Linked DNA regions of Homo sapiens: all the other regions are linked to region 1. The links come from fine-mapping of genetic effects on gene expression. A gene starts in region 1. Each other region holds a variant in brackets. All regions are shown on one strand. Distances are between the middles of the regions.

What was found. PIP is the estimated chance that this variant, and not a neighbour inherited with it, causes the effect.
Region 2: its variant is fine-mapped to the expression of PGGHG in aorta (GTEx, PIP 0.96).
Region 3: its variant is fine-mapped to the expression of PGGHG in monocytes (BLUEPRINT, PIP 0.94).

Annotation. Positions count from the first base shown.
Region 1 is chr11:286,230-291,374 of GRCh38, reverse strand. PGGHG (protein-glucosylgalactosylhydroxylysine glucosidase) reads right to left here and starts at 2,249. Exons shown (of 14, transcript NM_025092.5): 1 at 2,136-2,249; 2 at 1,300-1,571; 3 at 775-985; 4 at 262-697. The coding sequence starts at 1,558. RefSeq lists silencers at 2,060-2,119, 2,130-2,659 and enhancers at 2,543-3,072, 3,073-3,602.
Region 2 is chr11:344,502-349,748 of GRCh38, reverse strand. No RefSeq gene overlaps it. Among named protein-coding and RNA genes, the nearest start is that of B4GALNT4, 22 kb to the left of the region's middle. The variant CTGGCTAGCT/T (reference allele first, on the strand shown) is at 2,017.
Region 3 is chr11:252,990-258,236 of GRCh38, reverse strand. It overlaps the pseudogene COX8BP. Among named protein-coding and RNA genes, the nearest start is that of PSMD13, 19 kb to the right of the region's middle. RefSeq lists an enhancer at 169-669. The variant GTCCGTCCA/A (reference allele first, on the strand shown) is at 2,018.

The sequences.
Region 1 (5,145 bases):
TGCAGCCCTTCTCGCCTTGGTGGAGGCCCCTCCCCACGCTCTGGAAAGTGCCTCAGGCCCTCTCAGCTCTGGTCTCTGCACCTTCCATTCCCCTCACCTAGATCACTCCTCTACCAAACTCCTGCACACCTTCCAGGCCTCTTCCCTTTTGCCACAGTCCCTGTGCTTCCCCAACCATAGCCCTGGTCCCAGGGAGGGCAGAGACCGTGGACCTCCATGTGTCGCCTGCTGTGTGGCTGGTGCTGGGTGTACAGTGCTCACCTGGTCCCAGAAGACGTGGCCCCAGTAGCATTCCTCACGGCTCCCATTGGAGAGGCCCCCAGGACTGAGGCCATGGCAGATGTATCCTGGGGCCTTGGGCTGGGGCAGGGCACTGAGCAGGTAGTAGAGGGAGCCACGCAGGGCCTGGCGCAGCTGCAGGGGCCCCACCACGTCCAAGCCACATTCTACCCAGAGCTGGGCCCAGGCCTGTGCGTGAGCCGTATACAGAGCTCCCCTGGCCTGCAGCTGCAGGGCCTCAGTGAGGCAGGCCTGAGCCTCAGCCTGGCTGCCGCCCACTGCTGTCAGGAAGTCCCACGTCCTAGCCTCCTCACCTTCCCCAAGGGTCAGGTCTGGGGGTGCTGGTGTCCACAGCATGTGTACCTCTTGCTGTGGCCCCCCGGGCTGCTCAGGGGTGAGGGTGTGGCCATACAGGTACCTGTGAGAGCGTGGCCATGCCTCAGGGATGAGCTCCCTCCCTGGACTCCCTGGCTGCAAATCCAGCCCCCTCCTTACCGGGCTCCCTGGAAGTCAGGACCCTGATGCAGGTCCAGGTCTGGGCTTTCTGGGGAGAAGGCTGACCGCAGGAGCAGCGTGATGGGCCCGCTCCCCGGGGCCAGGCGGGCGATGGACACTCGGAAAGCCAGCACGTGGGGCAGCGTGCGATGCGCATAGATGCACTGGGAGGCCCGGAAGCGGGGGCCCTCCAGGGTGTGAAGAAAGGAGCCTGGGGAGGCAGAAGCGAAGGCAGGTGGGTTGCCAAGCTATGGCCTCTCTGGGGCAGGAGTGGACCACCCGACCGCTGCCTCTCCCCACAATGAGGCGGATCCCTCTGGGCCCTCGGCTGCTCGTTCCCGCTACAGCTGCACAGGAGGCCTCCAGGTGGAGGGAAGGGGGGACCCTGCGGGCCTCTGGGGCCTCCTGTCTTAGTGAGACTTCCTGTGTAAACTCAGGAGGTGCTGGTGGGATTCGATGCTGTGGTTGCCCCACCGACCTGGAACAATGCCTGGGGCAGGGGTGAGGCAGGCCAGGTGGCGCTACCTGTGTTGGTGTCCAGGGCGAAGGTCTCGGTCAGCTGCTCCCCCATCCCTGCAGGGGCCTCCAGCCGGACGTTGAGGGGGCTGGGCAGCATGGCCCGGTGCGTGTCCCCGCCAGCCCCATTGTACACGCCGCTCACGTGCAGCGTGTCGTGAAACACTCGTGTGCCCAGGTATGCGTTGGTCACAGTGGCCAAGAGACGGGGGTCACTGGGCAGAGAGTGGGCAGCAAACGTGGTGGGGTCCTCGCCGGCGTCCTCCATGGAGCTGCTGGGCCTGAGCGGCCTGATGGGGTGTCAGGGGCCGCGGGACTGGCTGGGCCTCCCTCTTGAGACCGTCTGTAATCCCCTGAAGCCTCCCTCAGAACTGGGGGGAGTTGCGGAACCAGCTGGGCAGCCCCGATTTTCCTGAGGCCCCTCCTAGACGGGGCCTCGCAGGAAAGGAGCTCGACTCTCAGAGGGGCTCAGACCCCAAAGGTTGATCTCCAGGAACCCAGCTGAGCCCCTGAGTGTGTCTCTCCCTCCTGCTACCTTAGAATTCCAGTCCTAACCCTGCTTTCCAAACGCACCCCCCACAACCCCGGTCTTGCCCCCACCCTCTGTGGTCGGGACCTGCGTCTGTTGGTGGCACGTGGGGGCGGGCGTGTGTGGAGGGTGGGGGGAGCGCTGGGCGGGATGGGGGAGGGAGTCCGGGGCTGCCGGGGCGCCGGGCGGGTGGGGGTCTCGGGGGTGTAGGCGGCTGGGGCAGGCGCGGGTGGGGGAGGGAGGATGGGGCGACCGGGGGCTGGGGGGACGGGCCGGGGCGGCCGGGAGCTGCGGGGCGGGGGCCTCTGGGACTCACCGCAGCCCCACCCGGTCGCCGGGCGCCAGCGTGGGAACCTGTGTCCCTCTGCTCCACGCCAGGGCCGGGAGGAAGGAGGAGCCGCCCGGCTGCCGCGCCACCAGGAAGGTCCGCGGTCCCCGCCCCGAGGGCCCGGGCGGTCGCTGGGAGGCGGGGGCGGTCCCTGGGCGGCGGGGGCGGTCGCTGGGCCGGGCCCGGGGGCGGGACGTGGACTCGCGGCCGCGGCCCCGGCTCCCCTCGGTCCCCGCTGGCAGCGGCCGCGTGGGTCGCGTCCGGGGGCCTGGCGTTCCCTGCACGAAGCGCCCTGAGTGAGCAAAGCTCGAGCCTGGACCCCGAGCTGCGTCCCGGGGCGGCTGTGGGTGGGGCCCGCGGGCCGGGGGTTCCCTCCCGCGCCTCCTCCCTCCGCCCGCGCCCCCGGCCGCCTCCACCTGGGTCCTCGCCTCGCTGTCGCCCGAGGGCTCGGGGGCGCTCCGAGGCCAGCGAGACTCCAGCCCCAGCCGGCGCCCGGGTTCTCGACACCGTCCGGAGAAAGAACTCGGGGTCGGGTCAGAAGGAAGCGAGAGGCTGGAAGCGAAGCGAAGGCACAGACCCGCCGCGCTCGGCGGAGCTTGGGTTTCCTCCCTGGGGGGCGGAATGATCTTTAGGGATTCTGGAAACGAAGGGGACTTCAGGGAACCCCGGCCCCCGCCGCGCCTGCCCCTTCTCCCTTATTGGGCGTTTTGCCGGGAAGGCTCATGGACGTCTCACTCGCACGGGTGTTTGGCCGTTTTCTCGCTCTCGTTTTGGGTTTTCTGTTAAACTGCGGTCCCTTTGCCTCGGTCCTGGTGCAGCTGCTGCTTGGGTTTTCCATCCTCCTGAGACCACCGGTGCAATTCCCAATTCCCATCTCAACGCCACCGCCCACCCGGACGCCGCTGGGCTCAGCCCTGGGCCCGCTCGTCCCGGTATCTCACGCTCCCTGACCCGGCCTCAATGTCCTGACCACTCGGTGCAGCCGGAGACGCCGGGGTCCAGCACGTGCTCGGAAGCCTGCTGCTCCCACAGGGTCCCCAGCACAGGTGAGGACGACTCCGCCCGTCCCGCTGCCCAGGCCGTGAGCCCCGGTTTCTCTCTGTCACCCACACAGCATCCAACCTATGGACAGGTCCTGTGGCTCCACCTCCAACACGCCGTGGGCCCACACCTCCTCCTGGAGTGGCTCAGTCGCTCCCAACTTACGCCTTTGTTGAGAACAGAACCCCCACAACATTTAAGGCAGGCCCTGCACTCTGCCCAGAAGGCAGCCATGGCGCCCAACTCACGGAGGACGATCCAAAAGCGCTCCTCACGCAAGCTCCACCCGGCGCAAACCCCCTCCTGCAACTGCCTGGGTTCCCTGACCTCATCTCCTCCCCCTCCCCTACTCCGCTGCGGCTACCTGGCTTCCTTGCTGCTTCTGGAACTTTCCAAGCACGCAAGCTCCACCCGCAAACCCCCTCCTGCACCTGCCTTGGTTCCCTGACCTCATCTCCTCCCCGTCCCCTACTCCGCTGCGGCTACCTGGCTTCCTTGCTGCTTCTGGAACTTTCCAAGCACGCAAGCTCCACCCGCAAACCCCCTCCTGCACCTTCCTGGGTTCCCTGACCTCATCTCCTCCCCCTCCCCTACTCCGCTGCGGCTACCTGGCTTCCTTGCTGCTTCTGGAACTTTCCAAGCACGCAAGCTCCACCCGCAAACCCCCTCCTGCACCTGCCTGGGTTCCCTGACCTCATCTCCTCCCCATCCCCTACTCCGCTGCGGCTACCTGGCTTCCTTGCTGCTTCTGGAGCTTTCCAAGCACGCAAGCTCCACCCGCAAACCCCTTCCTGCACCTGCCTGGGTTCCCTGACCTCATCTCCTCCCCCTCCCCTACTCCGCTGTCGCTACCTGGCTTCCTTGCTGCTTCTGGAGCTTTCCAAGCTCCCCGCCTGGCTTGCTCTGGCAGCATAATTGCCTGAAGCCCTTTTTCTCAAGACCTCTTTGGGGCTTGCCCCCTCACTCCTTCGGGTTTTCAAATGCCCAGTCGTCAGTTAGACTTCCTCAGACCCCCGTTTCATGCAACAGGAAACCCTGCGCTCCATCCATTCCCACCAGCCCCTGGTTCTGCCTAACTTTCCTCCGCAGCATTTATCCGCCCCGCCTCTGAATCTTTATTACATTGTTACTTGTTGATGCATCATAGGCCTTTTTTTTTTTTTTTTTTTTTTTTTTAGAAAGACTCTCGCTCTGTCGCCCAGGCTGGAGTGCAGTGGCGCGATCTTGGCTCACTGCAAGCTCCACCTCCCGGGTTCGTGCCATTCTCCTGCCTCAGCCTCCAGAGTAGCTGGGACTACAGCGCCCGCCACCACGCCCGGCTAATTTTTTTGTATTTTTAGTAGAGACGGGGTTTCACCGTGTGAGCCAGGATGATCTCGAACTCCTGACCTCGTGATCCACCCGCCTCGGCCTCCCAAAGTGCTGGGATTACAGGCTTGAGCCACCGCGCCCGGCCACATCACAGGCCTATTGATTGTGGTGTGTAGTTATGTATCAGATACACATTTATTTATTACTTATTAGCGATGGGGTCTCTCTCTGTGGCCCAGGCCAGAGTGTGGTGGCAAAATCATATTAGGTTGGTGCAAAAGTAATTGCGGTTTTTGCTTACTTTCCAACCAACCTAATAGCTCACTGCATCCTCGAACTCCTAAGCTCAAGCCTCGAACTCTTGCCTCAGCCTCCTGAGTATCTGGGACCACAGGCATGCGCCACCACACCTGGCACACGTATACATATAATATACGTACTTGTGCTATTGCGTTGTGTATCACATATGTGTTGTGTATGTATCGTATATATATTTATTGTATTACACTGTGTATCATATAGGTGTTTGTCTTCTTACCTAGAATGTCAGCTCTAGGAGGACAGGGGTTTTTGTGTTTTGTGAAATGAAGAAATGGAGTTAGAAAGTGGATTATAGTAGGGGATTTCCCCTGGGCAGTGATGGGGC
Region 2 (5,247 bases), 58 kb before region 1:
TGTGTGTGCGTGTGGTGTGTGTGTGGTGTGTGTGTATGGTGTGTGTGTGGTGTGTGTGTGGTGTTTGTGTGTGGTGTGTGTGTGGTGTGTGTGTGTGGGGGGTGTGTGTTGTGTGTGTGGGGTGTGTGTGGTATGTGTGGTGTGTGTGTGTGAGGTGTGTGTGTGCGTGTGGTGTGTGTGTGGTGTGTGTGTGGTGTGTGTGGGGGTGTGTGTGTTGTGTGTGTGTGTGTGTGTGTGTGTGTGTAAACTGGACGAGGCTTCCCTCTGGTCCGTCATGTCCTTGGGACCTTGGCCTTGTAACCACGTGGCCGTACTTTCTCTTGGTTTCTGCCATCATAATGGCGGCCCGGGTTCAGGGTTCAATTCCCAGCTTAGGGGATGGGTCTTTAACTTCTGTTTGTCTGTGTTTTTGTACATGTTGTGTGTGGAATATAAAAGAGCTTTAATTAATTGGTTTAATAATAAGAGCTTAAATAAAAAATTTTGTCAGAAAAGTTAAAAGTGCAATGCTTTTTAGTTCATGTGACTTAAATAATCTTTGGGAAATAAAGACAGTTTTAAAGATTATTGGTAAAATAGAAATAGCTTCAAAAATTTAAAAATTTGGTCCAAATAATGCATGTCAGATATTAAGTTCACTAAATGCAAACAACACAACTGATGAGACTAGAATTTAATAACACATGTACCATAGTTCTTGAAATATAACTTTTTTCTCTCTAGTTTCCTATTTTTACTAAAGACAAATCATGGTATGACCAATTTGCTTTATTACACTTGGCCTGATTATTTGTATAAAGGGCAGCAAGAATAATTATTTTTTAGATAAGCTTTTTTTTTAAATTGGCTTTGATGGAACTCTGTTCCATAGAAGGAATCTTAGATAAGACTTTTTTAGAGCTGAGCCCTGCCATGGATTTCTGCCCTCAAATATCTGTGAGTTGAGTAAATTCCTCTCCTCTTGGGGTCCCAAGATAACCTGGGGCTCCTAGACCTTTTAGAAAGTGACATTCTTAGCCAGGCACTGTGGCTCACACCTGTAATCCAAGCACTTTGGGAGGCCGAGGTGGGCGGATCACTTGAGGTCAGGAGTTTGAGACCAGCCCGGCCAACGTGGTGAAACCCCGTCTCTACTAAAAATACAAAAATTAGCCAAGCGTGATGGTGCATGCCTATAATCGCAGCTACTTGGGAGGCTGAGGCAAGAGAATCGCTTGAACAAGGGAGGCGGAGGTTGTGGTGAGCCGAGATTGCGCCACTGCACTCCAGCCTGGGCAACAGAGACTCCATCTCCAAAAAAAAAAGAAAGAAAGTGACATTTCTTACTTATTACAGATCAGAAACCTTGTCCGGGGACTGAGCAGGCAAGGTGTGAGGCTAGTTTCCCAAGGGCTTTTATTGACTTTACAAGTCAAATTTCATTCCTTAAAAGAAAGCACACCATTCCAGTCAAAGCCTTGGTAAAATAACCAATTTCTCCAATTGTGTCCTGTTGCAAAAGAAAATAGATTCTTATTGCACTTATGCAAATAACTATATTGCCATAAATTAAGAATATAAATAGTTTCCAAATCAGGCAGATAGAAACAGATACGCTCCGAATTTTGTTTACAGAAGTATACTTTACTCATTTGCTAAAAGCTGTAAATAGCTCAACAGAAAAATTTTCTTGACTCTGAAAAACAAAAGATCAGCAACCTTTTCAACAAAGTTAAAAAGATTACTTCAGACTTCTTTTTTTTTTGAGACAGAATCTCATTCTGTCTAGGCTGGAGTGCAGTGGTGCGATCTTGGCTCACCGCAACCTCCATCTCCCGGGGTTCACGCCATTCTCTTGCCTCAGCCTCCTGAGTAGCTGGGACTACAGGTGAGCACCACCATGCCCGGCTAATTTTTGTATTTTTAGTAGAGACGGGGTTTCACCATGTTGGCCAGGATGGTCTCGAACTCCTGACCTCATGATCTGCCTGCCTCGGCCTCCCAAAGTGCTGGGATTACAGGTGTGAGCCACTGCGC[CTGGCTAGCT/T]TCAGACTTCTTTAGTCTATGCAGTTAACTCCTGTTTGATATTCATGAACATTTTAGCTCTCCAAGAGAGTCCTAAAGTTTTTCCCTCTTTTCTAATGTCACAATCTCCAAAGTTATTAGAAACCTGCATTTGAGGGCCGGGCACGGTGGCTCACGTCTGTAATCCCAACACTTTGGGAAGCTGAGGCAGGTGAATCACCTGAGGTCAGGTGTTCGAAAACAGCCTGGCCAACATGGTGACATCCTGTCTCTACTAGTAACACACAAAAATTAGCCAGGTGTGGTGGTGCATGCCTGTAATCCCAGCTACTGGGGAGGCTGAGGCAGGAGAATCAGTTGAACCTGGGAGGCAGAGGTTGCAGTGAGCCAAAATTGTGCCACTGCACTTCAGTTTGGGTGACAGAGCAAGACTCTGTCAAAAAAAAAAAAAAACCCACCAAAACAAAGAAACCTGCATTTGAGTGCACCTGGTAAAGTTTTGTTTTGTTTTGTTTTTGTTTTTTTTGAGATGGAGTCTTGCTCTGTCACCCAGGCTGGAGTGCAGTGGCTCACTGCAAGCTCCGCCTCCCGGGTTCACGCCATTCTCCTGCCTCAGCCTCCCGAGTAGCTGGGACCACGGGCACCTGCCACCATGCCCGGCTAATTTTTTGTATTTTTAGTAGAAATGGGGTTTCACCATGTTAGCCAGGATGGTCTCGATCTCCTGACCTCGTGATCTGCCCACCTTGGCCTCCCAAAGTGCTGGGATTACAGGTGTGAGCCACCGCGCCAAACATCATTTCTGTGTTATTATTATTTTTGAGACAGGGTCTCTTTCAGTCACCCAAGCTGGAGGGCAATGGCATGATCATGGCTAACTGCAGCCTCCACCTGTTGGGCTCAAGTGATCCTCCTGCCTCAGCCTACTGAGTCGCTTGGACTGCAGGCATGCACCACCACATTTGGCTATTTAAAAATTCTTTTGTAGAGATGGGGTCTTGCTATGTTGCCCAGGCTGGTCTTAAACTCCTGCGCTCAAGTGATTCTCTTGCCTCAGCCTCCCAAATTGTTGGGATTACAGGCATGAGCCACTGTGCCCAGCCCATTTCTGCAGTATTACTGCCAAAAAGGCATAACCTCGTTCCAAAATGGAAAAACATCAAACAAACACAAACTGAGTGATATTCTACAAGATAACTGGTGGATAGTCTATAAAAGTGTTCAGATCATGAAATACAAGGAAAAACTGAAGAACTGTCCCAGGCTGCAGGAGGCTGGGAGAAGTAACAATGAAATGCAAAATGGAACAGAACAGAAGAGGACATTAGTGAAAAAACCGTGAAATTTGAATAAGGTCTTTATTGAACAGCACTGTGCCAATGTTAATTTCCCACTTTTGGTAATTATATTACAGTCATGTAAGATGCTGTCAGTGGTGGGAGCTGGGTGAGGGAGGTACAGAAGCTCTCTGTACTGTTCTTGCAACTTTTCAGTAAGTCCTAAATTGTTTCAAAATAAAAAGTTAGAGAAAAAATCAATATTAAGTACCTGGAAAGAAATAATACAAAAGGTGGACTAACAAAGTGGCACATGACTGAGCGCAGGTCCTACAGCCGACCTTCCCGGCACAGATCGCTACCCTGTTGCTGTGTTTCAGCTGTGTGAGATTGGGCAGATTGCCTAACCTCTCTCTGTGTCTCCATTTTGCCTTCTGAAAAATTGGGCCAATAACAGCACCTATGTCAGCAGGTTGTTACGAGTGTTCAATATATATATGTAAAGCACTTAGTACCATGCTTGGTACAGGTTAAGCACTTAGAAAGTGATAGCTTTGGCCGGGCACGGTGGCTCACGCCTGTAATCCTAGCATTTTGGGAGGCGGAGGCAGGCAGATCACCTGAGATCAGGAGTTTGAGACCAGCCTGGCCAATATGGCGAAGCTCTGTCTCTAGTAAAAATACAAAAATTAGCCAGGCATGGTGGCGGGCACCTGTAGTCCCAGCTACTTGAGAGGTTGAGGCAGGAGAATCGTTTGAACCTGGGAGGCGGAGCTTGCAGTGGGCGGAGATCACGCCACTGCACTCCAGCATGGGTGACAGAGTGAGACTCCATCTCAAAAAAAAAAAAAAGAAAGAAAGAAAGTGACAGCCTTTCCCCCACCGAACAGATTGTGATAGAAGGAGTGCTGGCTTTTATAGTATTATGACGGCCAGAATTATAAAAAGGCAATGGACCCAACTGAAGAGTGGACATTGCGTCGCCAGCTCCGTTGAGAATGGTGCTAGGAATTATCGTGGAAGAATAAAGAAAGGGCACATGCAACACGGAGCTGAGAGGAGGGAAAGAGAGAGGGGTGCATACCTGTCACTATTCCATGTTCTAGAAGGGGGAGCCAAAAGCAGTGGGAGAAAGAAATACCCGAATAAATAATACAGCTAACATTCCCAGAATTGAGGAAAGATGAAGGGCTTCAGACCGAAAGGCTGCAAAGAGGTGAGATAAGAAATAACCTACATTTTCATGTACCACAGTGAAACTGAAGAGTATCAAAGAAAAAGTTCCAGAAAGAGAAAGTTCCAGAAAGAAAAAATAGGTCTCCTACAATGAAACAGGAATTAGATTGATACCCGATTTCTCAGAAAATTATGTTGAAATAATTAATTGGGAGGCCATTAGATTGAGGACGCTCCCAGTGCCCTGAGTTCTTAGATAAGGTAACTGAAACCCAACTCAGCATGAATGGCTGGATCCTAACATGACTTCAAACTAGACACAATCATTAGATACCATGAAAACGCAGCTTCAAACTAAGGACTTTGAAGCTACTGCTTTAATTTAACCAATCAATTTTTTGTTTATTTGTTTGTTTGTTTGTTTGAGACAGAGTCTTGCTCTGTCACCCAGGCTGGAGTGCAGTGGCACGATCTTGGCTCACTGCAACCTCTGCCTCCCGGGTTCACGCCATTCTCCTGCCTCAGCCTCCTGAGTAGCTGGGACTACAGGCGCCCACCACCACACCCGGCTATTTTTTTTGTGTGTGTGTTTTTTGTAGAGACGGGGTTTCACTGTGTTAGCCAGGATGGTCTCGATCTCCTGACCTCGTGATCCGCCCGCCTCGACCTCCCAAAGTGCTGGGATTACAGGCATGAGCCCCCGCGCCGGGCCCAATTTTTTTTTATAAATTTTGCTTCCATGTGTACCTTGTAAATGTTTTCCGGGAGCCCTGAATGACTTGCAGTTTGG
Region 3 (5,247 bases), 33 kb after region 1:
TGCGTGGTGGCTGGTCTCCCTCCCGCCTCCCAGGTGCGTTAGGGGTATGTCCAGGGCAAGCTTGATAGGTATGTGCTGAGTGGCTGAAGAAGGTGAGGGTGAAGATTCAGGTAACAGGACTACTTTTGTCCATCCACGGCCTTGAGCGCACCTTCCGATGCTGCCCCTGTCCAGGATGAGCCAGGATGGGCCAGGACGGGCCAGGATGAGCCAAGATGAGCCAGGATGGGCCAGGACGAGCCAGGATGAGCCAGGACGGGCCAGGATGAGCCAAGATGAGCCAGGATGGGCCAGGATGAGCCAGGATGGGCCAGGATGGGCCAGGATGGGCCAGGATGAGCCAAGATGAGCCAGGATGAGCCAGGATGGGCCAGGATGAGTCTGGAACCCTGAGCCTGCAACCCTGAATGCTCTTCAAGTCTCAGTTTCCCCAGCTGTTACGTGGGGCCTTAATCTCCATCCTGCAGCCCCACTTGGCCACCTTCTCTTTCTCTCTGGGTCACATCATTTTCTTTCTATTAAAGGGCAGACCTGGGGGTGGCGGGGAAGAGGGTCCAGGCCTCAGGATGATGACAGGAGAGGCCATCTGGGGCAGCCTTGCTGTGGGTGGGGGACTCAGGATCTTTAACCACAGGGTTTGGTTTGAACAAGTGGTTCAAACTGGGGACTAAAAACAAGGCTAGGATAAAGACCAAAGCTCACTTCTGCTTTTGTGGGGCCCCAGAAGTAGAAGCTGCGTGAGTGTGAAGTGAGGAGGACAGGTTTGTGCTTGGAAAGGTCAGAAAGGTCGGAAGACCGGTGAGTGGGCAGGTGGGAAGAGGTTGAAGGCTGTGGACGGCGTGGCCATCTGGGCTTGAGGGAGGCCGACAAAACCTCTCTCTCCTGGAGGGCAGTGTTTCCTCCTGGCATCGCTGCTCCCACCCCTGCCAGCTCCCTCCTCTCAGCCTTCATCGGGGGCATCACCCACCCAAGGCTGGGCTGGCTGGGGGCTTGTTTGGAAGCCTAACGTCCTGAAGCACAGTGGGCCTCTCCACTGCCCACCCACACACGCCACCTGCACCCCCCACTCCACTGAAGCCCAAAAAGGGCAGAGGTGGAGGCCTCCCTCGGGGGCAAGCCTGGGTGGTGGTGCAGCTAGTTCTTATCTGTAAAAGACAAAACACCATAGCCTGGGAGACTGATCCTTTGAACACGCACTCAGGTCCACAGCCTTATCCAGAACTGGACCCCAAAGCTATAATTAAAGGTTCAGGCGGAAGGGATTATTACAGAGGAGGGGCAGAGCCCCCCACTGCCTGAGGCTGGTATCAGGAGCCCAGCACTGCTGGAGATAACATTCAGGACACCCTTCTTCCTCTGGCCTCACAGGACTTGGCTCCTGCTTGAGAAACCAAGTCAGATGAAGACTGGCCAGGGACCCGGAAGGTGGGGTGGAAAGCCTAGGAAGTAGTCTCACATTTAGGACAAATGTGGTTTCTGGGGAAGAACAAAAGTAAAATCATGTTCCTAGTGAAATTTGCTCGTATCACCAATTTACCATTTCAAAACAAACAGATAGGGGCGTGATTGTCCATAGTGAGGGTGATGACCACAGCCAAGCCTGGAGGTACAGACAATGACCATGGATAAATCTGGGGGCCTAGGTGGGGTCAGATGTCCTACTGCTTCTACTGGCTCCTGGGCTTGGACTCAGCTGTGGCCTTTTTCATTGTCAGTGATAATACTGTGGGTCATTCTGAAGGAGAAGTGTAATCCCCACAGTTGTCTCTCATGTCTGACTTGGCTTTGTATCCTTCAAATCTAGCCCAGTGCCCAGCATACAATAGAAACTCCATCCATCCTTATAACAACTCCTCCAATCATCCATCCACCCACCCACCTACCCACCCATCCATCCACCCACCCATCCATCCATCCACCCATCCACTCATCCACCCATTGACTCATCCATCCACCCACCGACCCATGTATCCATCCATCCGTCCGTCCGTCCGTCCGTCCGTCCGTCCGTCCGTCC[GTCCGTCCA/A]TGCATCTATCCATCCACTTATCCACTCATCTATCCATCCACCCATCCACACATCCATCCATTATGGATCCCTGCATCCATCCACCCATCCACTCCTCCCACCCACCCATCTGCCCATCCATCCATCCATCCGTGCATCTGTCCGTCCACCTATTCATAAACTCATCCATCCACCCACCATCCATCCATCCATCCATCCATCCATCCATCCATCCATCCATCCATGCATCCATGCATCCATCCACTCATCTGTTGTCCATCCACTCACCCATCCACCCATCCATTCATCCATCCATATATCCATATGCCCATCTGTCCATCCATCCATGTAACATTGACTGAAAAAGTCTGCTAAACCAGACACTGCTCCAGGCTCCAAAGATTCAGTGGTGAACACAACGGAGTCTCTGCCCTCATGGGACTTACATTCCAGCTTCAAAAACAGAGAGTAAACAAGATATATCTAAGGAGATGTCATTTGAGCAAAGCCTAAATGATCTAAAGAAACAAGTAAAAACCTGAGGGAAAGGCTGTCCAGACAAAGGCGCCAGTGAAGGGTGGGAGTGCCCTGTGTCTGGGATGTGTTTGGATTATAATCCTGAAAGACACACTCCTGAGTCTTGAAATCCTGAAAGATCAAAATATCTAAAGTGTAAAATCTCTAATATTTAAAATTCCAAAAATCACAATCACAGGAATCATAGAAATTTTTAAAAAGTAGCGCCACTTAGAAAATGAATTTGAATGTATTCTCCAAGGAAAGCCATGTCCTAAAAGAAAAAAAAAACAGCTATTCATTGTGATGCAAGACTTCAGAATATAGTTAATGGGGTCGTGGAAGTTTGCCAGCTCTTACAGAATATCTCTGCATAGTTGCCCATAATCTACTGTAATATGACTTACACAGAAAATTCGACATATATGGCTTTTTCAAGTTGAATTTTCTGTATAGTTTTTTTAGCTTTTTTCATCATCATAAATTGTCAGCATTATTTTTTTACAGTTCACTATGCTCTCATTTTATCCTTGCATCATTTCAATACTGAAGATATAAATTAGAACACTTATACAGTGTTCTAATTTGTTTTAGGCATTTTTTGCAAAACTGACTCCACAGAAGTGCATTACCACAATGTTGTCTGTGTGTGTAGGTAAAAATGGGATATTTCCTCAATAAATGAAGAGATGTCCTTTTTGTACATCTGCATTTGTGAAAAATTTCTCTAGATCTTGGTTTTTTTGGTGACTGGCTATGTGGTGGTGAACTGTTGCGGTTCTAGATTGAGCCTGTTAGAAGGCGTAGGTTGTTCATCCTGGCTTTTCGGAAGACTGCAGTTATGAACCTGGGCGCACGCAATTCCCACCCGAGCGGTAGGTGTTCATGCATTTCCCCTCTCAACACATTTCTTTACGAATACAGCTCATCTGTGCATAACTGTCATTGGTATGACTGTTTACACTTGCAGAAACATGGATATTATTATTGTCTATTTTATTGTGTGAAGTGGCCTATGATGTGTTCTGTCATATGTCATGTTTTTATGTTTCTCAAATAAATCCCCTTTAAAAATGTAAATAGATGGCCAGGCGTGGTGGCTCATGCCTGTAACCCCAGCACTTTGGGAGGCTGAGGCGGGCGGATCACCTGAGGTCAGGAGTTTGAGACCAGCCTGACCAACATGGAGAAACCCCATCTCTACTAAAAATACAAAATTAGCCAGGTGTGGTGGCAGGCGCCTGTAATCCCAGCTACTCAGAGGGCTGAGGCAGAATTGTTTGAACCCAGGAGGTAGAGGTTGCAGTGAGCGGAGATGGTGCCATTGCACTCCAGCCTGGGCAACAAGAGTGAAACTCCGTCTCAAAAATAAAAAAATGAAAAAAAAGTAAATAAATATCTTTTAAATAATTTTAAAATTATTTTTTCCAGAAATATATTTTCAGAATTTTGATTTTTCGGGATTTCAGCATGCAGAATTGTGTCTCTCTGGGCTGTGATCAGCTCATGTCTGGGATGAGGCAGGAGCCTTGGTGGGGTGCAGGGAGAGCAGATGAGGGTAGGAGCAGGACCAGCAAGGCAGGCAGTGGTCAGAGCACTCAGGCCTTGGGGGTGAGTGAAGCCTGTTGGAGGATGCTGAGCAGCGGCAGCAACAAGACCTGATTGTTCTGGAAGACTGTCTGGGCTGCTGTGTGGAGGAGCGGTTATGGAGGACAGGTTTGAGGCTGGACTTAGGGAGGGTGGGGAGTCAGCGGGCTCGATGTACACATGAGTGTCTGAGGGAAATGGAGGCTCACACTAAGACATTTGGCCTGAGCAGCTGAGAGGGGCTGCGGAAGGTTGAAGGGTGCACCACAGGGCCTTGGGAACTTGACAGTGAGGTGGGTATAAAGGCTAGTGGTCAATAGATCCCAGCAATTGTGACTGACGAGGAACAGCTGGGGTGTCAGGCCATCTGGACCAGGGCCAAACGAGGTCTGGAGAGGGTGGGTGGAAAGACCGAGAGGGGTCTGGGGCCATGAGGTCAGGCGAGGCCTGGACGAGGTGGAAAAAACCAGGAGCTCAGACACCAGCAACCAAAGAGGAAAAGGCTGGAGAAGATGCCGGACAACTGTTCTTTGCCAGCCTAGCAGACTTGTGGGTGCTTTCCTCCAACAGGAGCAGGCCGTGGGGCTCTCACATTCATCAGCTTCCTGGTTCCTGGAGGCTGGGTCTCACCCGACCTGGAGAGCTGCAAGAGCTCCATGCTGTCACTGCAGGCCCAGGACTGAAAGATCACATTAAACTGTCCTTCCACCTAATGTTCACTCTGTGATTCTTTGTGTACGTGCACCTCCACTCCCAGACGGGGAACCTCAAGGTGGTTTCCTTTACATGCCCAGTCCCAGGGATGGCTCATGTCCGCACTGGGGCACACCAGGTCACAGATGCTGGTGGCTATTTGAATGATGAGTGGTGACAAGGATGTGGATGGATGCCTGTGTCGGGGCAGGTACCTGAGAGGGCTGGAGAAGGGAGTGGATACCCCTAGGTCTCTCTTGACTAACAATAAAGATAGGACCAGCGTCTTCGTTAGTCCTTGGTGCTGGATTCTGCCCGTCTACTGTATGTGCAGGGAGGAGAAGGGCCAAGGCTACCCCCACCGTGTCTTCCCAAGGTTCCAACTCATGCTTTTTAACCTCCAGGCACAGGCTTGGCCTGGAAGCTAAGCCCAAGAAAACAGAGCC